7 linked regions of the Homo sapiens genome follow. The protein of the gene in region 5 interacts with the protein of the main gene of each other region in a pairwise test. Each region holds a gene or a part of one and is shown on either strand. Other genes may lie near its edges. The genes, in order: SEC22A, SLC38A7, MAL, CTXN3, EDA, LPAR3 and MS4A13.

Region 1 (3,347 bases), on a different chromosome or scaffold from region 5:
TGAGAAATGAATTATCTTGTTACTGTCAAGTGAAAGTGGGTGTCCAGAGTCCCACGTGTTCTCCACTGATATCACAATAAGAGGGTAGAGGAGGGATTCATTGCCATCTAGTGGGAATGAAAGTCCTGGCTTCTACTTGCCTTTTCTGAAGCCATGCTGAAGGGTTAAAACATCTGCTTATAATGTTCTAGGCTCTCAACATTTGATGGTGTGGGTATGGGTGGGTCACAGGGGTTTTTTGTGTGATGTTTGGCTAGAGGATAATAGTTACTGTTTAAAAGTTTTCTGTCTTGCTAAGGTGCCTCTTTCCTGGTCTTTTACCAGAGAGAGCAAGATGTTATTGAGGGTCTTTTTTGTTGTTTGTTTTGATATGCATGCCTTGGCATTTCTAGTTGCCAGCTTCTTCAGCTCCAAGTCTGGGATATATGAAGCAAAAAAGAAAACTCAGAGAACCTACCACTGTGGCATTCTTGGATCTCAAGATTCTTTATTTGTCTGCTTTTCCTCCACAGTTCAGAGTCTTCTTATGCTTGTTTTACATATAATGTCCAGTGTTTTTATTTGTACTTAGTGGGAGAAATAGGGAAAAGTGTGTCTACTCCATCTTCCCAGAAACAGAAGTCCCTGAGCCGTTGTTTTTAAAGTAAGTTACAGACATCATGATATTTTTTACCTTAAAATACTTCATGATGTATCTTCTAAGAATACAGACATCTGTCTACATAGCCAGGACTTCATATCACATCTAAGAATTTAACATTGATACAATATTATCTAATATATGATTCCTATTCAGATTATTTCTGTTGTCTCCAAAATGTTTTCTGTGGCTATATTTCTCCTGATCCAGGATTATGCATTTCATTTGATTGTCGTGTACCTTTTGATCTATGATACAGTCTCCCAGCCTTTTTGTTGTTGTTCTATTTTAGTTTGGTTTTATCTTTCTTAACATTGACTTTTTTAAGAGTTCAGGCAAGTACCACAATCTGGATTAGTCTGTTACTCGTGATTATATTAAGGTTAAATATTCTGGCAACAGTGCTGTATAGTATAATATGCTGAATATCTCTCATTGCTTCAGTCAGGAAATGTGATAAGTTTGATCATTTGGTTAAGATGGTGTCTACCAGATCCCCATTGCAAAGATATCTTTTTCTTCTTTGTAATTAATAAGTAATATGTGGGGTAGAGACCTATTATTTTAAAAGCCTTGGAAAACCTTGAATTAAATATATGTGTGTGTGTGTGTGTGTGTGTGTGTGTGTGTGTGTATATATTACTGGAAATGCTAGCTCATTTTTACAGTAGCATTCCAAGCAATAAATATAGATAAAAAATGGAAATATAAAATCACCATTAAGCGAACACCACAGTAATCATTGTTGCAGGCAAGAATCATTAATGGATACTAAAATTAATGAGCAAAAGTATGATGAGATAAGATATTCACATAATCTCAACTCCCTGCCCCCAAGACAATAATTGCAAAGGGAATAGATACCACCTTATTAAGTGATCTAATTTAATATGTAATAACATGTATTGCGTATCACCTCTGATATTCTTGCCAAAATTGTATAACCTCATTTCAATCTTGACAAAACATCAGACACACCCAAGTTGAGGGACATTCCTACAACATAACTGATTAATACTCTTCAAGACTGTCAAGGACATGAATTTTTTTTTTTTTTTTTTTTTTTTTGAGATGGAGTCTTGCTCTGTTGCCCAGGCTGGAGTGCAGTGGTGTGATCTCGGCTCACTGCAACCTCCGCCTCCCAGGTTCATGCCATTCTCCTGCCTCAGCTTCCCGAGTAGCTGGGACTACAGGCGCCCGCCACCACACCCGACTAATTTTTTGTATTTTTAGTAGAGACAGGGTTTCACTGTGTTAGCCAGGATGGTCTCAATCTCCTGACCTCGTGATCCGCCTGCCTGGGCCTCCCAAAGTGCTGGGATTACAGGTGTGAGCCACCATGCCTGGCCAAAAATTTTTTTAAAAAAAGATGGAGGAGCTGTTACAGATTGGAATATACATGACAATTAATGCAATACAGAATCCCAGATTAGATTCTGGACCAGAAAAAGGACCCTAGTGGGACAATGGGCAAAATCTGAATAAAGTCTGTAGATTAGCTAAGAGTATTGAATCAATGTTCATTTCCTGGTTTGATGATTATACTATGATTACATAAGAGGATAACGGGGAACAGGGTGAAGAGTATACAGTAAACAAAGCGTATACAATAAACTGTTTTTGCATCTTTAACTCTAAAATTGTTTAGAAAGAAAAAGCTATTTTTTTCTATTTTTTCAGTCTTATATGATGAAAATCACTGATAAATACTTCCAATTCATTTTGCTTGGATAGCAGTCTTCTTTTTAAGTAAACAGTCCAAATTTGCATAAGAACTAAACATATTTAACAGAACATTTCCACATTCTTTCTGCATTATAACAGACACTGGTGTGTCCTTCCCATTCTGAAGCCTGGACACAGTTTCTCAGAGAGACCTGGGCCTCTCTCTTAGACTTTGTGGTTCCTATACTTACCAGGTTGTGAATTTTAGACATCTTCTAGAAAACAGTTTATTCACTCAACACATTGAGCACTTACTATGTCCCAGGCACTGTTCTGGGCACTGGAGATAAATGAGTAAATAACAGTAAAAAATCTCACCCCTCATGAAATAGATTCTGTTGAAAGCCTATGGATGACAAACAAAATAAGCACATTTCTCAAGTATGTTTATAGTATGTTGTGGAGAAAAATAAAGCAGTAAAGGGTGAATGCCAGGATGGGCAGGAGCGGTGAGAGGGGGAGTACTTTCTTGACCGTTTCATCTAAAATAGCACCCACTATCATTCTTACTCCCTATCCCTTTTTCCTGCTTTCTCTTTTTCAAGACATAACTGTTTGATATTATATATTTAAAATACATTTATAATTCTTCCCCATTAAAATTTAATATTTATATGAACAAGGGCTTTGTTTTACTTACAACTGAAGAACAATGCCTGACTTGTAGCAGGCCCTGAGTAAATATTTGTTGAATGAATTCTCCCTCAAATGTTCAGTCAGATGCTGTACCTAGCATAGTTCCTTGTACTCAGTGGGCGACTAGTAAAATGTTGTGGATTTTGTTAATACTCAGACTCAGGTTATATTAAGAGTCCATTTTGTAGAATAGCTTGTATGTGCTTTTTTGTATTTTCCTGGGTGAGAATGGAACACCCGCAGACCCTGGGAATGCTTCTTAGTTGCCTGTCACCATGGGGAATTTGCTCAGCCTGTTTGCAAGGAAGTCATTCCATTGTACTTCCATTTAAAATATGATACAAAA
Region 2 (3,500 bases), on a different chromosome or scaffold from region 5:
AGGCTAGAACAGTATTGGCCCAGGCAGCTCCTACGGTCTATCCGTGGAAAGAACTCAGGGGATCCTTCTTCCAGGGTCTCCTAGACTTGCTCCCTCACCCCAACCACTCTCCACACGGCAGCCAGAGCCACCTTTCCCCGAACCACCCCCCTGCTTAAAACACTTCCTCGATGACTCCCAGCAGCCCTCGAGGCCCAACAGGATCTGGCTGCCAGTGCCTGTCTGGCCTCACTGCCTTCACCTGCCCCCATCACACACCACTCCAGCCACATAGACTTTCTTCCTGGCCCTGCCTCAGTGATTTGGTGTTTTGTGGTTCCTCTGCCTGGAACCCTTCTTCCCCAGCTCCTCCTCTTCTGGCTCTTTCTCATCATTTGGGCCTTCTCTGAGAAGAACCTTCTGTGAACCACTCCCAAAGCCACCCATCCAGTCCCATTCATACCTTCCCCATTTTAGGCTGGGTTGGTGGCTCATGCCTGTAACCCCAGCACTTTGGGAGGCCGAGGCAGGAGAATTGCTTGAGCCCAGGAATTCAAGACCAGGCTAGGCAACATAGTGAGACCTTGTCTCTGCTAGAAAAAAAAAAAAAAAAAAATTAGCTGGGCACAATGGCACATGGCTGTAGTCCCAGCTACTCTGGAGGCTGAGGCAGGAGGATCACTCGACCTCAGCAGGTTGAGGTTGCAGTGAGCTATCATCATGCCACTGCACTCCAGCCTGGGCGACAGTTTCTGAGACCCTTTCTCAAAACAAAATAAAATAGAATAAAACAAAACACACCTTCCCTATTTCACTGTCATCAGGATGCTTGCCACCATCTGGAATTCCTTACTGATTCCCCAGTTACTCCTGCATGACTGTCTCTCCAACAAGAATGTCAACTCCATGAGGGCAAGACCAGTTCTGTCTCTCTCCATGGCATCCCCCATGCTGAGAACCGTTCCTGGCACTTCCTAGGCACCAAGTTAGAACTGGTGAATGAATGGATGAATACACCACTCTCATCTTGGCAGGAGGAGGCTCCAGGCAGGCCAAGTTCAAGCCAATGCCTATACAAGTCATGCTGGGAATGCAGGGCTGTCCCCAGGAAAGCTAGGCCCCAGGACCTAGGGACTCCTGTGGAAGTGAGAGCACTCTAGTCCCAGGTCTTGGGGGGGGGGAGCACTCACCTGTCCCCATGTAGACAGCGAGGGCTATGACCATGGCAGCTGTCACCACTCCACCCCAGGTCTTCACTTCAGGCTGCTGCATGCTGTTGAAGACGGGCACACTGCTGACGTGGCACTGTCCAGGTGAAGGGCACCGTCATGGTGGGGAAATGACCTCAACCCCAGTTTCCAGAGGAAGGTACCTTGGGAACAAAGACCCCAGGAACAAGGGGCAAGTCCTGAGGCCCCTGTTCCATCCTTCCCCCCAGGATTTCCTCCATTCTGCCTGGGTTCCTCCTCCTTGCTGGGTTCCATCCCAGGGTGGGGTGATCTAAGGGGACAGCAGGGACCTTGCAACTGGCACTGGCACCTGAAATCCGAAGCAGATGGTGGGCATGGCATTGAACACAGCCATCCAGGAAGCCGGCCTGTGAACAAACACACATGGTGCTGCCACCTGGGAACCCCTCAGAGCCACAACCCACCCCACGCCCTCACTCTTCGGTCAGCCCACCATGGTCTCCAGCAACTGGGATTCCATAGCTTCAACCCACAGAAGTCTGGGAACAGGGAGAAGAGGCATCCTTATGTCCCAGGGCCCTCTGGGATGGGGCCTGGAGGTTCAGAAAAGCCCCCCTGGGGCCAAAATCCAGAATTCCTGGCTCCTGGACTGGGGCTTTTGCTTTACTGGTTTGTTCCTTTCAAAAGAAGGAAATTGTTTTTTTTGTTTTGTTTTGTTTTGTATTTTTTTGAGATGGAGTCTTGCTCTGTCACCCAGGCTGGAGTGCAGTGGCGCGATCTCGGCTCACTGCAACTTCTGCCTCCCAGGTTCACGCCATTCTCCTGCCTCAGCCTCCCGAGTAGCTGCTACTACAGGCGCCTGCCACCACACCCGGCTAATTTTTTTGTATTTTTTAAGTAGAGACGGGGTTTCACCGTGTTAGCCAGGATGGTCTCAATCTCCTGACCTCATGATCCGCCCGCCTCGGCCTCCCAATGTGCTGGGATTACAGGCGTGAGCCATTGTGCCTGGCCCCCCCCCTTTTTTTTTAATAATAAATTCACCCTCAAAGATACAGAAATTACAGATAAGCAGATGCTGGAAACACAGGCAATTCGACCCTGGGATTCCACCCTCAGGTTCCTCCACAACCCAAGGCCTAGCCTCACACTGGCTCATCTGTTGGATGTAGGTGGCAAAGTGCCTCCTGTCTCTGATTCTTGCTCTTCCTTCCAGTAACATCAGAGCAGGGGCTCTTTCCTCCTTCCTACAATGACCAAGTCAGCCCTGATGAGCTCATGAGCCTTGAGAAGAGCACCTGTGTGGCCTTCTGGTTCCTGACCCAGCACCTGCTGGGGCCCAAGTGGTGGCTTCTTCCCCATGTCTCCTAGGGCCCTCACCCTCACCTGGTCAGGATGTTCCCTGGGGTCATCTCTTTATCTGGCCAGATGTACTTGATGATAACGATGGCTGTGACGTACCAGGTACCCACGACGCTCAGGAAGCTGCCGGGAAGGAGAGACTAAGTGTCCTCATCCCCAGCTGCCTCTTATCTGATTCCACCCCTAGGGACATCCACCTTCAGCTCTAGCGACCACAAGTGTCCACTGAATGAACCGGAGACTATGCCAAGCAGACTCAGGAAACGCCTGAGAAGTAGTTTCAGAGAAACCTGCCACAGCTAGGAAGGAGCTGGACAGCCAACAGGGGACCTGATCAGCATTCCTGGCCATCAGGAAGTGCTGGTTCAGCTCCATGGCTCAGAGACGATGCAGAGAGCAGAGCTCCAAAGCACACCTGGGACTTGAATCAGAGCAGCCCAGCCCGGGCAGGGGCTGTGGGAGACCATCCTCTGAGCCTGGCCTTTGAGAACTAAGAGATGCCAGAGGTAAGAGGGTTGAGAGTACAGACACTTTTGTGTCAACATTTATGGGAGCCTTGGAGAGAGCGGAGCATGGCCCCTGCACTTACAGACGGGGAAGCCTAGAATCCCACAGCCTTTCAGACACCGAGACAGGAAACCAGTCTCCTTCCTTCATGCCAAGCTGCAGGTAAGATGCTGGTAGGCTGACAGTCTCAAAGACCCAAATTCCTCCCAGGGAATGCCAGGAGGCTGCCTTCACCGCCCAGATACCACCTGTTCCTTCTTTGACAAGGGCACTTAGAACTGAACTACTCATGGATGCAAAAGGACATTTAGAACTGAATCTCTCATGGATGCATCCTTTTTCTATGATGGAGACAGAAAAGGATGGTCTTATCTGAAACCCTGCAAGCCCCGGTCTGCCCTGCCTTGCCTACTCTTGCTCCCCAAGGTGAGGTGGCATGGAGGAGCAGGGTTCCCCAGGAGC
Region 3 (3,500 bases), on a different chromosome or scaffold from region 5:
TTCAGCCCTTGTCCCTGGCCGACCTGAGTGTGAGCGCTGCTGGCAGCAGCATCGTGGGGCTTCCTACTCACTTCTGAAAGCACTGGGACAGAAAGGGTGCCTTTGCACCAGTTCTGGCATTGCCCCATCCCTGTGAGGTGGGGGAGTGACTTATGAAAAGCTAAAAGGCAATCTTTTAAAATATAGCTCAGGTGTGATGACACATGTCTGACAATCCTGTGGAGATGAGCCCCATCATCACACTTAGCAGTTTCCAGGGAGCAGCTCAAAGTTACTGAGTCCTCACCAAAGCCAGCCTCTGGTCTTGAAAAACCAGAAAAGTCACTTCTCCACCAAACCCCTGTGAAATCTCTGTCTAGAACACTTCTCCTCCCTTTAGAGAGGAAGAGAGGAGAAAACACGGAAGATCAGGCAGTAGCCCTCTCTAAATAGCTACAGAGAAGGGACAGAGCCAGGAGCCAGTGGACACAGTCAGAGAAGGCCAACTCAGCCACCATCCCATTCTGGCCAAGCGGGGCCTGCCCCACTCCCTGGTGCCTGTAGGAGAGGCTCCTAGCTAGCACAGCAGGGAACTTTCTCCAGAACAGAGGAGGTCCCTGGTCTGACTTGTGAGAACCTCAGAGCACCTGGCTGCTTGCCCCAGCCTCTCCCTGAGAACTGTTCCCACTATTCTATCCCCCATAAAAATATCAAGAGGGTGGCCTGGCCTCGAGATGTCCGCTCCAAGTCTCAGCCAGTCAGTGGAGGGTGTGCAGTGCAATGCGGGTTCTTCAACCTGCCCTGGACCTCGTGACTCAGAACCTGCAGGGTGTGTTTTTGACAAGGAGACCCAGAGGAGGTGTGAGCTTCCCAGTGGTCCTGAGCTGTCCCTTCATTCCTGTTGGGGGAGAGAAGGGACCAAGCCTTGCCCAGAGCTGCCAGGTGGGCAGGGCTGCCTACTCAGGATCCCAGTGTGCCTTCTAGTGCAAGCAAAATCTCGTGTGGCTGATTAGGTGAAAGGAGAAGCCTGGGCATGATCTGCTCACTGCCAGAAGTGCTCACTGGACCCTGGAGACCCGGTGACCCAGGCAAGTTGCTCCCTGTCTGAGCCTCAGTTCCCTGCCAGCTCTGAAAGTGAGGTTTCTGTCATTCTACGTCTCTGGTCTCCTAGGAGTTCCCATGCCACCTTCTCAGTGCAGCCACAGCTTGGACCACCTAATGCGAAACTGCCTCGCTGGCCCATGGCCCAGTCCCGGCTCTGTCGGGCTGGCTATTCCCCAGCCAGGTAGAAATCTAGCAGAAGTCCCCAGACCTCTCTGGTCACTCTTAATAACAGTCCAGTCACTTTGGGTCACAGAAAAGGTGTCATTTTAGTCATTACTCTGTCCAGTTCACTGTAACTGTCAAAACTGCAAACTGATTGCGGGTGTCTCCCCACCCCAACCCCAACCCGTGATGTGACTGCACTTCTGTTCGTGTTTCTGAGGCACAGAGGAGGAAGGGCATGCCCCTGGAGGGCTGGGCGGCATTCCTCACACCCTCACTCACAACCCTGCCTCCTTTGTGGCCTGGGGAGGAGGGGGCTGAGTAGATGATCTCACAACCCTCTTCAGGCACTTCCTTCACAAGTCCTGAATGGGTAGGGGGTCTCTCCTGGCACTCTGTGGGAGACCTCGCATCTGGGGGCCCCAGCTGAGACAGAAAGCCTTCCCTGTGAACCTTTCATTCCCTGAATGGTGGCCCAGTGTCAAGGAAGTCCCTGGCTTAGAATGGAGACGGAGACAGAGACAGAGAGTGGCTCCAAAAGGAAAAGTTCCTCACTGGGTGGGACTTTTGCAGGGGAGCAGACGAGAAGCAAAGCCCTGGGTTTTGTTGGAGGAGGGGAGAGCATTGGCTATTTCACCCTTGGCCTATATGGGGCTGCACTGATGACCACACCACCTGCAATAGGGGCACAGCCTCTGTGGCTCTGGAGGTATTTGGAAAGGCAGTCTCACTTCCTAGTTGGGCCTGCCTTCCTCTTCCTGTGAGGACTCTGCAGCTTTCAGAGGTCAGGAGGTCTGGGATAGGGGTGCTGGGCCAAGGAGAGGTTGCTATGCCCCACCCTGAGCTGCCACCCTCACTTGCTCCAGTGGGCAGTCCCCTCACCATGGAAGTGGCGCTCCACCCGGATCAGCTTGGACATCTGCGCCTCCCAGGCTGTTGGGAGGTCAGGCATGGGAATCTGAACTATGAGTCATCAACAACTCAGTGGACTACAGATTTAAAAAATAATCAAGCATTTCACACCCATTGGACTAGCAGAAAATTATAAAGTCTGACGCTACCAAGTGATGAGGAACAATGGCGACTTTCATGTGCTGCTGGTAGGGGCCGGGGAAGGTCCAGGTTTAGCCTGAAGCTTAAACAATCAGGAGGACCATCTTTATAAGAGAATACAAAATTAGGCAGAGTCTTGGAAGGGGCTTGAGTAAGTAGGGGTCTTGAACTTAATTAAACATCAGCTTCCCAGTAAATCTGCTCCTGGGGTGTGTAAATTGGAATTACTCTTTTGGACGGCAATGTGATAACACCTGGGAAAATGACAATGTGCATATCCCCTGTGACCCAACAAGTCACATCCTCCAAGTGTCTCTGGGAGACATTTCCAACAGGTAACTACAGAGGCAAATATGAGAATGTTCTTAGCAATGCTGTCTGCAATAGCTAAAGGCAGCAAATTGGAACTATCCAAAGTGTCTATTAACAGAAGACTGGGTAAACAAAGTCAACATGTATAAATCTCAGAACATAATGTTGCCTGGAAAGCATGTTGCAGAAGGATACGTACTGTATGCTGGCATTTTCATAAAGTGCGAAAACATGTAAAACAATGCCATGTGTAGTTCATATGTGTGCAGTAAAAGTCTAACCTGTGCTTGGAAGTGAACACCACATTCAGCCTACAGGTGGCCCTGAGGACGGAGGGAGAGAGAGAATAAGATAACAGAAGGATGTCTAGGAGGCTTAGATGCCATCTGAAAGCTTCATTTCCTTAATACATAACAGCAAACAAGGCAAAATATTAAGATTTGACAAAGTTGGGCAATAATTATGTAGGTGTCTGTTAAAGTATTGTATATGTTCTTCTGTGGCATTTGAAATATTTCTATTTTTTGTTTTTTAAACTTGAGGTGAAATTCACATATCATCAAACCAATCATTTTAAGTTGACAGTTCAGTGGCATTTAGTACATTCATGGTGTTGTGCACCCACCAACTCAATCTAATTCCAAAGCATTTTCATTACCCCCAAAAAGAAACCACATAGCGATTAAACAATTGCTCCCCTTGGTCCCTGGCAAACCACCAGGGTTTGTGTTCTGTCTCTATGGATTTATCTATTCCAGTATTTTATATAAACGGAATCATACACTATATGACATTTTGTGCCTTGTGTCTTTTGCTTAGCATAGAGTTTTCAAGGTTTATCAACTTTGTAGCACGTATCAGTACTTCATTCCTTTCTATGGTCAGGTAGT
Region 4 (3,500 bases), on a different chromosome or scaffold from region 5:
TGGTCTGATGTGCTGAGGAGACCTGCATTGGAGGCTCTGGCCTCCCTTCCTGCCCCTCCCTTCCTGGCCCACAAGGAATTAATACCCAAGGCTAGGAGGGTGCTTAGAAACAAGCAAACCAAAACAAAACCCAGTGCATTAATATCCTCTAAATTCCTAAAGAGCTTATTTTTTTAAAATGCGGTCAAATTTTTATCCCAATCTTACTTCCAAACAAACATGAATTATAAATGAGTTTTGCAACTGTTATAGCCTTTAAAAAAATTCAAAGTGATAGAGCTGCAAAAATGATGCATTACCCGACTGGTAACTCCTTCCTCCCAGATCCTGGCTGGGATCCCCCTTATAAATTGTTTTTTAAACTGTAATTTTACAAACTTTGAAGTGTCAATATAATGCAAACTGTTATGCTATGATTACTAATGCTGTACTTGAAGGCAATGATTATAAGTTAACTGAAGGAACATTGTATTGATGCTTTAGGTCACATATTCTATTTTTATTTGGTTATTTTCATTGAGCAAAATTTATTTTGTGTCCGTGTTAATTTCCGTAGCTAATTACTGTGCTTTGTAATTTTTATTATAAATAAATTCATAATAAATATCATTTAATTTTCTATATAGTAGTAGTGTCTAATGTATATACTTTTATTTACGATGTGATTTAAGTAGATTTCGTTCAGTATCTGAAGCTTTTAACGACCTCTGTGTATACTTGTCATGTATATACTTGTATATTTATACGGTAATATACACTTGTATATTTATACAGTAATATCTACATATCTAAGTTTTTCCACCAGTAAAATTAAAATAGTGTTAGCTTGTCCTTTTCCTTCTCTTCCTCTCTACTGAATAGTCTTAAATGGTAGGAAGCCACTCTAAGGAAAACTGTCCTTTTGAAAATATGCATCGATCAATTCCTTTCTCTTGGCTTAATTCTCTAGGTGCTTCCCAGGGTCAAGTATTGAACCTGGTCTTTGTTTTCTGAGGAAAAAAGAAAAAGCAGCAGTAACTTGATAGTTTGGGAGACTGAGATACCTCCGTTCTCCCTTGGCTCAGGCAGTAGAAAGGAAAGGAGAAGCAGCATAGCTCCCTTAGTTGTGTCTTAGGTGAAGCAACACTTGGCTTTGTTTGTTTTTCTTTTTTGTATACTTTTCAAAGGGTTTTCACAGCTCTTCATCCTTATTACAGCACCATGAAAGATGCAGGCATTGCTACTTGCATTTTTACAGCTTAGTGACCTCTCCAAGGTCCCACACCCGTTTTGCAGTAGAGTGGAGCCCGGAGCCCAGAACCCAATGCTCCTGGAGAAGGTTTCTATTTTAAGCACCTTTTCTAGCCTCAGTTTCCTTGCACTGGGGCTAAAGAGATCCCTGCTTTCGTGAAGCTTGCAGTAAAGTGGCTAACATGTTTCAAGTTTAGCCACTGTGCTGACACATAGCTGAGGCTCCCTCAATGGCGCTATCGTAAGAACAATGTGAGAGTAATATTAGTGGAGCAGAGCAGGAGGAGACTTGGCAGGGGAGGCTGGGTTCAGATGTCAAGTTGACAGTACACCCTGAGGTCAATATTACTGTGCACATTTCTCATCTTCTATATTATAGTCGTATTCCCTGCCCATCCCTCCTGGCCCCAGGTGGCTCTTCTGAGAACAATCTGGTAATTTCATGCAAGAGTAAAATATCTTTCCCGATAATTATACAGAATTGAGCATCTCTGGTGAAAAAGAAAGCTGGTTTACAGATTTCTTTTTCTCTCTGAAAAATATGACTGTGAACCTAAAAAAATAAGGCTGCTATTTTATAGGTATTCCTTTCCCTTCCTTTTTCCCTGCAGATAACTCAGCCTCTCCAGAGTGCAGCCACCATGACCTCCGCAGATTGATGATGGAAGAAAAGAAAACCAGGATATCCTGTGCTCTGGCTTCCCTGGACCATGGATGGAGGACAGCCCATCCCCTCATCCCTAGTGCCCCTTGGGAACGAATCAGCAGATTCTAGCATGTCCCTGGAGCAGAAAATGACATTTGTTTTTGTGATTCTGTTGTTTATTTTCTTGGGCATTCTCATTGTCCGGTGCTTCCGGATTCTTTTGGATCCATATCGAAGCATGCCAACCTCTACCTGGGCTGATGGACTTGAAGGCCTGGAGAAAGGGCAGTTCGACCATGCCCTTGCTTAGGAGGGATGGTGTGGGATCTCCTCCTGAGGAGATGAAGTGCTTTGTGTCTTGGTGAGGATTCCCTTTATTTAGTGTTCTCAACAAATCAAATTTAAACAATATTTGGTCCCAGGACCATAATCCATTATTCCATAAATATGCAGTTGGGTTAAAGACATTTGAGGATGTTGGAAATGGACACTTATATAACTAATCCAACATAAGAAGGTTTAAATTTTTATGTTTGCTCAATGAATGAGTACTCTTAAAATTGTGTGATTGTGAAACCAAGAGCGTTAATACTGACATAGATTTGCCATCAAACAAAACACCACCTGATCTGACTAAAGAATAAAAGACTAGAAAGGATCTCATATGAATCTGGTGACAAGGCCAGGAAGAGATTTCCTTGCTCTAATTATGTCTATATTTGTTTTATTTCATGGGCACCTATCTGGGTCCTGAGCAGAATGAGGAAGATTGTGCTGAATGGACCCAAAGTAGTTTCTTGTTTTCTCCCAAAGCAGGGAGCTTTGGGAAGCAATGGAAAAGCTTAAAAGAGATGATTCTGTCCTTGGTAAATGTGAGTGAGAATAGCGTTTTGTTTTTCAAGTAAAACTTAATTCAAAGGCTACAAAGTTTTAAAAACTATTTACCAAGCCAACTACATTATATGTATTCATATTAATAACATGTGTAGAGGTAGCTATACATTACTTGAATTTACACTTTACACAAATGATTTAAAAAATAGGTTGCAAGTGCAGCTTAAAGTTTTTTTTCAATGAAAAGTTAATTGTTTAGAGGAGAAGACTTTTATAGTCTTCAGAGGAATGTGTATTTATGATTGTATATAGTCACCAAATAAAACTTTTCAAGAAACAGAAATGCTTCCTCTCTTATTTCACCAGAACTAATGCACTGAGGGTGCTACCTGGTATTAAGTGCTGAGGCTTAACATTTTTCCAAGAGAGGAGAAAAGAGTTAACAGCATGAAAGCTCATCTAATTCATCCCTCTCCCATTTCAAGAAGAGCTCCTATAAATTGTCCTGCACAGACAAAACCGATAGTTTTTAAGACCACCAAAAAGGGAGATGTGAATACCTCTTATTCCAACTTTTGTTGGAAGGAAAAGCTTGTGTCTAAACCAACCCTGCAGATAACTCAGCCTAAACCAACCCCGTTAGGCTGTATTTATAATCTATGTCTTCTAGTTTTCTCCTCAGCTAGTCATTACCTTTTTTGATTAAAAAAAGCACACTTCTTTAACCTATTAATTATAAGATTTTCTTTTTCTTTCAAATGTACTGTGTCATGTGTGTCCTCATTAATTT
Region 5 (3,500 bases):
GTAAACAGCAGTTTAGTTTTATACTATTATTAGTACTTAGCTTATTTATATTGTGAGTTAAGTAACTTTCTGTGGGCTTATCAGGAGAACTAGCCAAACTTTATTATGTTGATTGTATGAGAAAATGCATTTTTACATTCCAATCAAGTGACTCAAAAATACTACTCAGTTGAACCATGTGAAATTGTTGATTGATATTCAACCATTTTTGACAAAAATGGCAGTTTATTTTGAAATGCAGTCCTGTTGACAAGATGGAAATTACCTACACATTGATTTATTAATTTTATATTTAATACATTCATGTATCCTTCAAGATGCTAATCCTACACCTTAAGGATATTGGGTAAATCACAGAATTTTGAAGAAAATTTGTGTGGAATATTGGGGCTTTCTTGGGTCCAACCCATTTTTTTTCCACTTAATCAGAGATGGAGCAGACATGAGGACTCTGGAATTTTTTATTTTTTGAACTGATAATAGAATGAAAATGCAGATTCATTTGTTCTATTTTAGGCCCCAAATTAACCATTCTATTTTGAAGATTAAGTTTAATAATAATAGTAATAGCAAACATTTATTAAGTGCATGCTACATGCTAAGTACTGTTCTAACTCTGCAACTGTTTTATCTGCAAAGTACTATTATTATCCCTACTTACTGATGAGGAAACTAAAGTTTAAGTAACTTGTTCCAGGTTATACAGCTAGTAAGTGGCAGAGTTGGCATTAGAATCACTCAGTCCTACTACCGTGTTTACTGTTTACCTCAAGCACATGGTTTTACCACAGTAAAGCACTCATGCTAAAAGATTATGATTCAATTCAGCAAATATATATTTAAGCTATGATTATTAGTGAAGCCAGACCCATTCACATATGAAACATATTGTATTATTATCAGAGACCATTATAAGACAGTAGAGGACCAGGTACCAAAATTAGTCTTATAGACCACAAGTGCTATAGGAATCTCAGAAGAGGAGAAAATAATTGTGTACTTTGTCATGACTAACTCCCAGAAGAGCATTGACAAATAGTACCTCAGTATTGGATGCACAGCATTTTGGGAACAAACCAAAATTACATCATAAATAGCAATGTGGCAAAATCATGAATGTGTAATAATGAAGTCCAATGGGGAGCAGCAAATTCAAGGTTTTCTTTCTTTCTTTCTTTCTTTCTTTCTTTCTTTCTTTCTCTTTCTCTTTCTCTTTCTCTTTCTTTCTTCTTTTTTTTTTTTTTTTTTTACAGAGTTTTGCTCTTGTTGCCCAGGCTGGAGTGCAGTGGTGCGACCTCAGCTCACTGCAACCTCTGCCTCCCAGGTTCAGGCGATTCTCCTACCTCAGCCTCCCCAGTAGCTGGGATTATAGGCACCCCCCACCACCACACCCGGCTAATTTTGTATTTTTAGTAGAGATGGGGTTTCACCATGTTGGTCAGGCTGGTTTCGAACTCCTGACCTCAGGTGATCCGCCCACCTCGGCCTCCCAAAGTGCTGGGATTACAGGCGTGAGCCACTGCTCCCAGCCAAATTCAAGGTTTTCTGTTCAATTTTCTGTTCAACTCAAATTCTGAGTGAGCATCCTCAGTATGTGTGGGAAGTTAGAAATTTGTGGCTAGGCTCTCTGAATCCCAGAAATATATGAAGAAATGGGACCTGATGGATTATTTATTAGATATTCAGGGTGGAAGAAATGGGATTCAGAAATTAACCAAAATGTCATGCCTACATGATTGGAATAATAATGGTATCAAAAATAAAATGGTTTGTACAGTGGAGGGGAAGATGGGCTCAGGCTTTAGACACATCAAACTTAAGGTACAGGTAGACTGTCTATGGAAAGCTGGTTTTTTATGTTGGCTATGACTGAGTGGGGTCAACCTTTGACTAATGTACTTGTAATTTTTACAGATGGCCCTATTGAATTTCTTCTTCCCTGATGAAAAGCCATACTCTGAAGAAGAAAGTAGGCGTGTTCGCCGCAATAAAAGAAGCAAAAGCAATGAAGGAGCAGATGGTAAGTCTACTCAGTTGATCCTTTATCACTTCTGAATTATTTGTTAGTAAAAGTATCCTTTTAAGAACTACCTTCTTGGTAGGGCATGGTGGCTCACGCCTGTAATCCTAGCACTTTGGGAGGCCCACGCGGGCAGATCACTTGAGGTGAGGAATTCAAAACCAGCCTGGCCAACATGGTGAAACCCTGTCTCTACTAAAAATACAAAAAAAATTAGCCGGGCCTAGTCCCAGCTGCTTGGGAGACTAAGGCAGGAGAATCGCTTGAAACTGGGAGGTAGAGGTTGCAGTGAGCTGAGACTGTGCCACTGCACTCCAGCCTGGGTGACAGTGCGAGACTCCATCTCAAAAAAAAAAAAACAAAAAAAAAAAACCACTACCTTTTCAAGTGTGCTTCATCATCTTATATACTGTCCACCACAGACCCAAGGTCATAGACTATTTCTGCAGCCTAACCTACCAATCAGTCCTTTAACATAGAACTAACTATACAAGGATCCTCCCTCCTCCAACTCCAGATACCTTCAGTCCTTTCTCAGTATGTCTGAGAGCCATGATAGCATTTGTATCTCTCAAAATCACCCTCTATAAGGGCCTCATCTCTCCCGGAGATGTCCCACACCTATTAAGGTCAACAGGAGGATTTGGTTCTATTCTTGGAATTGACAGTGTTGTACCCTGCTAGCACTTACATGATGTGTTAATTCCAATGATAATTTTATCAATGTTGGTATCCACTACCATGCCCAAATCTGAACTAGACCTTCTAGAACTAGTTTATAAGTTTCTTGTGGGCAGAGATTTCATTTCTCTTTGTATAAGCCTAGAATCTAGCCTACTATCTGGAACATTGTTGGTGATTGTTATGTAAGTCGATGATGTTGACTGCCCCTTCAGCTAGGCAGTGATGTATCAATGGAAACCATCCCTGTTCTGGGTGTAATAGCTTTGAGTTAACTAGCAATGCATTCTGTGGGGCATAACAAAATGTTGAGCTAGCTCCTGGGCAGGGTCTTTGAATTGCTCTGATATTTCAGCATCACTCTGTCAATTGACATAATGCTACCCCTTTGGGCACAGGGGTTTGTAGAATACATAGCTCTGGGCTGCTGCAAAGGCATCTGGATTCAAAGACAGCATGTGTCTGGCTACATCTGCCAATAATATGTGTCTGGAGGGTTACAAAGCAATATGACTTTATACAGATGAAAATGAAAATTTTAAACTGACATTTGTTGATGTGAGTAAGGGCCACTGATGGAAGCAGTTTTAGAGGGCGGAAGCTATTAAAGAGATGGAGCCAGGACTTTGTCAGTAGGGGCAATAAGAAGTATAACTGGCTGAAATCTGAGAAAGAGCTCAGAACAAGGACCCCATAATAATACCAAAAAAAAAAAAAAAAAGAGCCAGAGCAGTAAGATAGGGTTTTCTAGTCAGTGGAGGTGGCAGCAGCATTGAGCCTTTGAATGGAGAACTGGACC
Region 6 (3,500 bases), on a different chromosome or scaffold from region 5:
CATTGAGGTGTTAGTGCTTGATATAATTAAAAATTCGACCACATGTAAGAAATAAAACTAAAATGTTAAGATCCTTCAAAATAAAATTAGGAAAATTTGAGTAGTATTTTTGTAGTGTCTTAATTCCAATGTCTTTGTGACATATTCATCTTTATATTTCTAATAAATTAGTCAAAGATAATATAACTTTTAAATTAGAAATGTTTCTCTTAGATGTATAGAGCATGAAACAAAGTAAAATATATACATTATTTTTAATTAGAAAAGACACATAATAATTGTATTATTAAATTTTCCCATGTGGTGTCTTAGTCTATTCCTGTTGCAATAATAAAAATACTTTAGGTAATTAATAAATAACAGAAATTTATTGCTCACTATTCTGGAAGCTAGGAGGTCCAAGATCAAAGCATCAGTAGATTTGGTGTCTGGTGAGGGCCTGGTCTCTGCTTCCAGAAGGGGGCAAATGCTGTGTCCTTGAATGGCAGTGTGGCAAAAAGGGTCTCACGAGTTCTCTCAGGCCTCTTCAATAAGGGCACTAATCCCATTCACTTCCCAAAGTCCCCACCTATTAATATCACTGCAGTTAGGGTTAGGTGTCAACATGAATTTTGGAGGCACACAAACATTCAGACCATAGCAAGTGATTCTCGGATTGTTTGTCTTGAATTTCTGTATACTTTCAACATGGTTGAAAGCTGTATTTCTCTTTAAATATTTAAATTGAGTATCACTAGATTAGCACCTTGTATTTAACTCTCATATGCTGCTGGTAGAATTAAAAATATGATCTCTCAGGCTGGGTGTGATGGCTCATGCTTGTAATCTCAGCACTTTGGGAGGCCAAGGTGGGCGGATCACCTGAGATCAGGAGTTCGAGACCATCCTGGCCAACATGGTGAAACCCCGTCTCTACTAAAAACACAAAAATTAGCCGGGCGTGCTGGCATGCGCCTGTGGTCCCAGCTACTCAGGAGGCTGAGACAGGAGAATCACTTGAACCCAGGAGGCAGAGGTTGCAGTGAGCCAAGATTGCACCACTGCACTCCAGCCTGGGCGACAGAGCAAGACTCCATCTTGGAAAAAAAAAAATGCTATCTCTCTTAAGTGGAGTTTCACAAGATGTATCAGAAACCCTTAAATAGATTTATATCCTTTACTTCAATTTGAAATCTATGGGTTATTCCTAAAGAAACAATTGGCTAGATATATAAAGATTAATGAACAAGAATGCAGCCTTGCTTATAAAAGTGAAATACAGGAAGCAACCCTAATGTCCAGTATTTAGGATTAGTTAAGTCAGGTGTGGCCTATTCATATAATAGAATATTGTGAAGCTATTAAAATTATACTACCTGTATTTTTAATTTGGGGAAATTATGATATAGTGTAAATATATGATATTATCATGAATTTATTTGATATTTACAGTTAAATATTGGTGACTGTCTGCCAAAGAGAGTAATTTTTATTTTGTCATTATGAAAATTGAGTCTTCCTTTCTTGTAATTGAAAGATACTGGAACCATTTGTCTCTTGAGACTACTCCCAGTTTTTTTTAAGCATATAAAATGATATTTACCTCCCATTTGCTATGGCCAAAAAGCAATATCTAATTCATGTAAAAGTATCATTATACCATTAAAATATAAATTAAAAAAAAGACTGAGATACATTTCTATTTTGTACTACTTAATAGTTATCTGGTCTTCTTGATTCTGGTTGTGGTATTAGATTTCAGAATTTTCAGGAACTTTAAAATCTGGGGGCTTTTACTGAGCTTTTACTGTCACAGCTCCCAGAGGGCTGCTCAGTCCCTCTGCCGACTGAATCTCTGGTTCTCCAGGGAATAAGCTGCAGCCTCATTCTCAGTGAGGGAGCAGATGGTCATTCTTCCAAGAAGCTAGAACCCTGACCCTAAGCCCAATCTTCTTCCGTAGGACCGTTCATGGCTGTGGCCAGACCACTGTGAGGCAGAACACTTGGTTTTCCCCACCACGTGTAGACAGATGGGCATCCGTGGGGCTTCTGCCCAGCCCTTCCTTGGCCAAGATCCCTCGCTTTTGGGATTCAAGAGATCTTTTACTGAGAGGATTAGTGTCTTCCCTGTCTGCCTGATATCCCAGTTTGGGGTCTTCTTTCAGACAAGTGTCTGAAGAACATGCCCTCACTTAATAGATATGTTCTCACATCCACATTGAGTTGGAGATCTGCCCCAATTCCAAATCTCAGTCTTGCCTGTGGAAGCCCGATCCTCCTCCACCTGCCGTGTTGAGGAATGCTGGAAAATCCAGTGAGCAGGTTCACATTGGTACAGTTTGGGTTAGGAGACTATAAGGAAGAAGTGAACAAAAGGTAAGGAAGGGAGATATTGGGACCAAAGTCTCCATCCCTGCATCATATACCTAATATGTGAATATCAGAGTTGTTTGTTGAAACCAAAAGATGGCAAAAGGAGGATCAGGAGTGGAATCAGAAGTCATAGAAAACTGGTCTCTTGGGGTATCTGTTTGGTTATGTGAATGGTAATTCAACTCCTATTATCTTGGGAAGAATGTACCTGAAATTACCAACCTGCCGTTGATTAATGAACATATCCATAAATAACTAATGAACTGGGAGCCAGGAGGAGGCATTAACATAATGTGTTGTCATTGTGTTACCAGTGCAGAGTGGATATTGCAGGGCTCAGCACATTTGCCCTGTTGATGCCTCCATGAGAATTCATTCATTCATTCAGCCAGCCAGCCAACCTACCAATAATTACCCACCATGAGGCAGACAGAGCAACTGAATCCTAGGGTTGTAATGGTGAACAAAATAGAGATACACCCTCCTAACCTGAGCGGCCTAGCCTGGGAAACAAACAATTAAAATGTGCGCTAAATGCTGTGGTAGGAGGTCAGGGGCTATGTCCTGGACCAAAGGACATTTGCACTGAGACCTGACACTTCAGGTCTTCAACTCCCTTGATGGGAGTTAGCCAGAACGGGCTTAGAAACAGCAATTGATGGCTTAGTGACTGATTTTACAAATGATATTTGTTTCTTCTTTAAATTTCTTTCTAGGATGTTCACTTCTCCACAATGAATGAGTGTCACTATGACAAGCACATGGACTTTTTTTATAATAGGAGCAACACTGATACTGTCGATGACTGGACAGGAACAAAGCTTGTGATTGTTTTGTGTGTTGGGACGTTTTTCTGCCTGTTTATTTTTTTTTCTAATTCTCTGGTCATCGCGGCAGTGATCAAAAACAGAAAATTTCATTTCCCCTTCTACTACCTGTTGGCTAATTTAGCTGCTGCCGATTTCTTCGCTGGAATTGCCTATGTATTCCTGATGTTTAACACAGGCCCAGTTTCAAAAACTTTGACTGTCAACCGCTGGTTTCTCCGTCAGGGGCTTCTGGACAGTAGCTTGACTGCTTCCCTCACCAACTTGCTGGTTATCGCCGTGGAGAGGCACATGTCAATCATGAGGATGCGGGTCCATAGC
Region 7 (3,830 bases), on a different chromosome or scaffold from region 5:
AATAAACAGACATAAAGAGAGCAAAAAAGATATTGCCCAGTCCGAAGAACAGGAAAAAAAGAAAATGAAGAAAACTGTACAGAACCTCAAAATCCTTTGAGATACCATCACATGTATAATGGGAGTCCCATAAAAATGGGGAGTACCAGAAAAAAAATTAAAGAAATAATGGCTCCCAAATTCCCCTAATTTCATGGAAAACATTCAATACATCCAAAAAGCTCAAGGATCTTCAAGTAAAATAAACACAAAGAGATCCTCCTAGACACCTCCATGTCAAACTGATAAAAAAGAAAATCTTGAAAGCAGCAAAAAAAAATAAAAACAAGACTCTTCATATATAAGGGAACCACAATAATATAAACAGCTGGGTTCTCATCCAAAACAATGGAGGCCTGAAGGTAGTGGAATGGGATATTAAAGTGCAGGGGGAAAAACAGTCAGGCAGGAATTCTTTATCCTTTAAAACTATCCCTCAAAAATGAAGGTGAAATACAGACATACACAGATGAATAATGTGTTGCTAGCAGAAATTCCTCATGAGAAACACTAAAGGAAGTTCTTTAGACTGAAGTGACATCAGATGAAACTCAAATGCACATGAATAAATAAAAAAAGTGCCAGTAAAAGTAATTATGTAGGTGGTTATGAAAATCAGTATAAATACATCTTTTGTGTTTTCTTCTGTTAACTGATTTAAAAGACAGTAGCATTAATTGCATTGGGCTCACCCAGGTAATCCAGGATGATTACCTTAATTTAAGGTCGTGTTATTAGTAACATTAATTCCATCTGTCATAACTACTCAGCTCCACCTTTTAGCATGAAAGTATTCATAGACAATACATAAAGGAATGGATATGGCTTGTTCCAGCAAAACTTTATTTGCAAAAACGGGAGTGGGCTAGATTTGGTCCATGTATCATAGCTTGCCAACCCTTCTTCAATAGACAGTTTCTCAATTTTTCTCTTAAATTTTAAAAGATAAGATTATAAAAGCAGTAATTATAACACCATATTGGTAGTTACATAATATATATAGATAGAATAGATGACAATAATAGCACAAAGAAAAGGAAAGGGAATGAGTTATATGGGAATAAAGTTGCTGTATTTTACTGGAATTGAATTAGCATTCATCTGAAGTAGACTGTGATAAATTAGGGTGCTTATTTAGTGATTAAGCAAGCTAAAAATATAATAGCTTAAAAACAAGGGAATTAACATACACAAAGTATGTTTAATTTTTAAAAAATAAAGAAAGAACACAATGGCCAGGCTTGGTTGGTTAACACCCATATTCCCAGCATTTTGGGAGGCCAACTCGGGAAGACCATATGAGCCCAGGAGTTCAAGACCAGCCTGGGCAACATGACGAGACCTCATCTCTACAAAAAAGTAAAAATAAAAACACTAGCTATGCATAGTGCCACATGCCTGTGGTCCCAGCTACTTAGGCAGCTGAGGTGGGAGGATCACTTGGAACCCAGGAGGTCAAGGCTGCAATGAGCCATATTCAGGCCACCGTACCCCAGTGTGGGTGACAGAGTAAAACCCTATCTCACAAAAAAAAAAAAAAAGGAAAGGAAAAGAAAACACATGAGACGTGTATAAAACAAATAATAAAATGTCAGATATAAATCTATTCATTGTAATAATAACATTAAAATGACAGAGATATTTTAAAGTACCTACTGGAATGACTGAATTTCAAACTATTGACAATGCCAACTGATAGCAAAGATTGTAGATAAAAGAAATATCTCTCAAACTCCTAGTTGAAATATAAGTTATTGCAACAATTTTTAAAACCTTTTGGGCATTACCTACTAAAAATTAAAATGTGCATACCCTATGATCAGTAATTTAAGTCTTTGGTATATAACCAACAGAAATGTTTGCGCTTATGCATTAAGATAAACTTCCAGGAATATATAGAGAGCAGTATTATTCATAGTAGTCCCAAAGTGGAAACAACACAGGTGGGTGAGTGATGAATAAGTTGAGGTGTATTACTTCATTCAAATTTGACATGGTGATTAAAAGCAACTATACCTGCACTTAACATCATGGATGGATCTTACAAATAAAATGTTGAGTATAAAAACTCAAAAGAATGCATACTTGTAAAAAAATCCATTCATATGAAGTTTGAAACCAGGTAAAACTAAAGCTAACCTATAGTGTTTAGGGATGAAGCTTAGTTCATGAAACTAGAAAAAAAATTGACCTTATCTAAAAGTCAAAATGACCATTACCTTGAAGGGAAGGAATAGGTAATGGTTGAGAAATGTCATGAGAGGCTAGGGTGCTGGCATCTATTAAGATTTATGTTCAAGAAGACTATGGTTATTTTTATTATAAAAGTTTGAAGGTACACCAAAAGATACAAGTGATCCAACAGAAATTAAGAAAGTAGGTTGAAGGCTGGGCATGGTGGCTCACACCTGTAATCATAACACTTTGGGAGTCTGAAGCAGGAGGATCACTTGAGGCCAGGAGTTCAAGATCAGCTTGGTCAACATGGTGAAACCCCGTCTCTACTAAAAATACAAAAAAATTAGCCAGGCATGGTGGCACAGGCCTGTAATCCTAACTACTCGGGTGGCTGGGGCATGAGAATCTCTTGAGTCTGAACCTGAAAGAGAGGTGGTTGCAGTGAGCCGAGATCGCACCACTGCACTCCAGCCTGGGCGACATGACCTTGAAAACAGAACAAGACCTTGAAAAAAAAAAAAAACCCAAGGAAGGAAGGAATGTAGGAAGGAAAAAGAGAGAGAGAGAAAGAAAGAAGAAAGGGAAGAAAGGGAGGAAGGGAGGAAGGAAAGAAAGAAAGGAAGGAAGGAAGGAGAAAGAAAAAGAGAAAGAAAGAAAGAAAAAGGAAAGAAAGAAAGAGAAAGAAAGAAGAAAGGGAGGAAGGGAGGAAGGGAAGAAAGAAAGAAAGAGAAAGAGAAAGAAAGGAAGAAAGAAATAAGGTTGAAATAGGAATGGGACAGAAATAGGATACTTTAAGATTTCACTCTATAAATATCAGTATTACCTGTATTTTTTAAGAAAAAGATCTATTTATTAGTTGTATAATATTAAGAAACATGATATGATTTGTAAGAGGTTACTTTTTTTCCAGTTTCGAAGACAAAATGATCTTACATCTGTTACTGAGGAAGCTGAGAGCACTCCTTAAAAACCCTAGAAATATGAGAATTTTGCTGTTGCTGATGCCTGGTGTGGGTCCTAATGATATCTCTGTATAACAAAGCAGTTACGAAGCCTACAGATTTTGTGCAAAATAAAATACAAACAAGGTGAATTTTTCTCCTCATTCAAAAATGTCTCTGCTTATATTTTTCTAGGCTGCAAGGAAAGTTTTTCCCTATTTAAATATGAGATTATTACAGGATGAATGTGTTATCTAGGTACGCTGAATAGCTGTCAACTCTCCATAATAAAGCTTTTGTAAGAGACTGTAAAAAAGATTCATTATTATCTCTAGAGTGAAGGCTATAAAGACTTGGGCCATGATGTCGTATAATTCACAGGAAAACTTTAAATACTTATGTCCATACAAGCAGAAAGCACATTTTACAGTCTGAGTTCTTCTACTTTAACTAGCTTCTATCAAAGTATGAATCAAAAGGCCTCTAATTCATATTTCCTTCATTGTTCTTTGACTTCTCTTCTCCTTATTTAAAGTTCCTTTCTGCCCTGAACATATCTGCTATCTTTCTTATCTTTCTTTCCCCTTGCTTCTTTCTTCTTATCATTGTTTGGATCACCTGTTCAACTGCTTTTCAAAGCAGACAGACTGTCCACAATAAGGAGAATTTTCT

Evidence for each region.
Region 1: the proteins of EDA (region 5) and SEC22A interact in binary tests that used the Homo sapiens proteins (3 or more experiments, as listed by UniProt).
Region 2: the proteins of EDA (region 5) and SLC38A7 interact in binary tests that used the Homo sapiens proteins (3 or more experiments, as listed by UniProt).
Region 3: the proteins of EDA (region 5) and MAL interact in binary tests that used the Homo sapiens proteins (3 or more experiments, as listed by UniProt).
Region 4: the proteins of EDA (region 5) and CTXN3 interact in binary tests that used the Homo sapiens proteins (3 or more experiments, as listed by UniProt).
Region 6: the proteins of EDA (region 5) and LPAR3 interact in binary tests that used the Homo sapiens proteins (3 or more experiments, as listed by UniProt).
Region 7: the proteins of EDA (region 5) and MS4A13 interact in binary tests that used the Homo sapiens proteins (3 or more experiments, as listed by UniProt).

Annotation. Positions count from the first base shown.
Region 1 is NC_000003.12:123,267,943-123,271,289, forward strand, and holds part of SEC22A (vesicle-trafficking protein SEC22a), read left to right. Parts: intron 1-3,347. UniProt on the Homo sapiens protein: May be involved in vesicle transport between the ER and the Golgi complex.
Region 2 is NC_000016.10:58,674,771-58,678,270, forward strand, and holds part of SLC38A7 (sodium-coupled neutral amino acid transporter 7), read right to left. Parts: intron 2,655-3,500; coding exon 2,556-2,654; intron 1,577-2,555; coding exon 1,519-1,576; intron 1,352-1,518; coding exon of another isoform or gene 1,306-1,351; exon of another isoform or gene 1,285-1,305; coding exon 1,170-1,284; intron 954-1,169; coding exon of another isoform or gene 844-953; exon of another isoform or gene 764-843; intron 573-763; coding exon of another isoform or gene 544-572; exon of another isoform or gene 480-543; intron 1-479. UniProt on the Homo sapiens protein: Symporter that selectively cotransports sodium ions and amino acids, such as L-glutamine and L-asparagine from the lysosome into the cytoplasm and may participates in mTORC1 activation. The transport activity requires an acidic lysosomal lumen.
Region 3 is NC_000002.12:95,028,708-95,032,207, reverse strand, and holds part of MAL (myelin and lymphocyte protein), read right to left. Parts: intron 1-3,500. UniProt on the Homo sapiens protein: May be involved in vesicular trafficking from the Golgi apparatus to the cell membrane. Plays a role in the maintenance of the myelin sheath, and in axon-glia and glia-glia interactions.
Region 4 is NC_000005.10:127,655,582-127,659,081, forward strand, and holds the end of CTXN3 (cortexin-3), read left to right. Parts: intron 1-1,841; 5' UTR 1,842-1,940; coding exon 1,941-2,186; 3' UTR 2,187-3,049; downstream 3,050-3,500.
Region 5 is NC_000023.11:69,955,113-69,958,612, forward strand, and holds part of EDA (ectodysplasin-A), read left to right. Parts: intron 1-1,914; coding exon 1,915-2,020; intron 2,021-3,500. UniProt on the Homo sapiens protein: Cytokine which is involved in epithelial-mesenchymal signaling during morphogenesis of ectodermal organs. Functions as a ligand activating the DEATH-domain containing receptors EDAR and EDA2R. May also play a role in cell adhesion.
Region 6 is NC_000001.11:84,865,707-84,869,206, reverse strand, and holds part of LPAR3 (lysophosphatidic acid receptor 3), read left to right. Parts: intron 1-3,068; 5' UTR 3,069-3,086; coding exon 3,087-3,500. UniProt on the Homo sapiens protein: Receptor for lysophosphatidic acid (LPA), a mediator of diverse cellular activities. May play a role in the development of ovarian cancer. Seems to be coupled to the G(i)/G(o) and G(q) families of heteromeric G proteins.
Region 7 is NC_000011.10:60,539,392-60,543,221, forward strand, and holds the end of MS4A13 (membrane-spanning 4-domains subfamily A member 13), read left to right. Parts: intron 1-3,127; coding exon 3,128-3,184; 3' UTR 3,185-3,330; downstream 3,331-3,830. UniProt on the Homo sapiens protein: May be involved in signal transduction as a component of a multimeric receptor complex.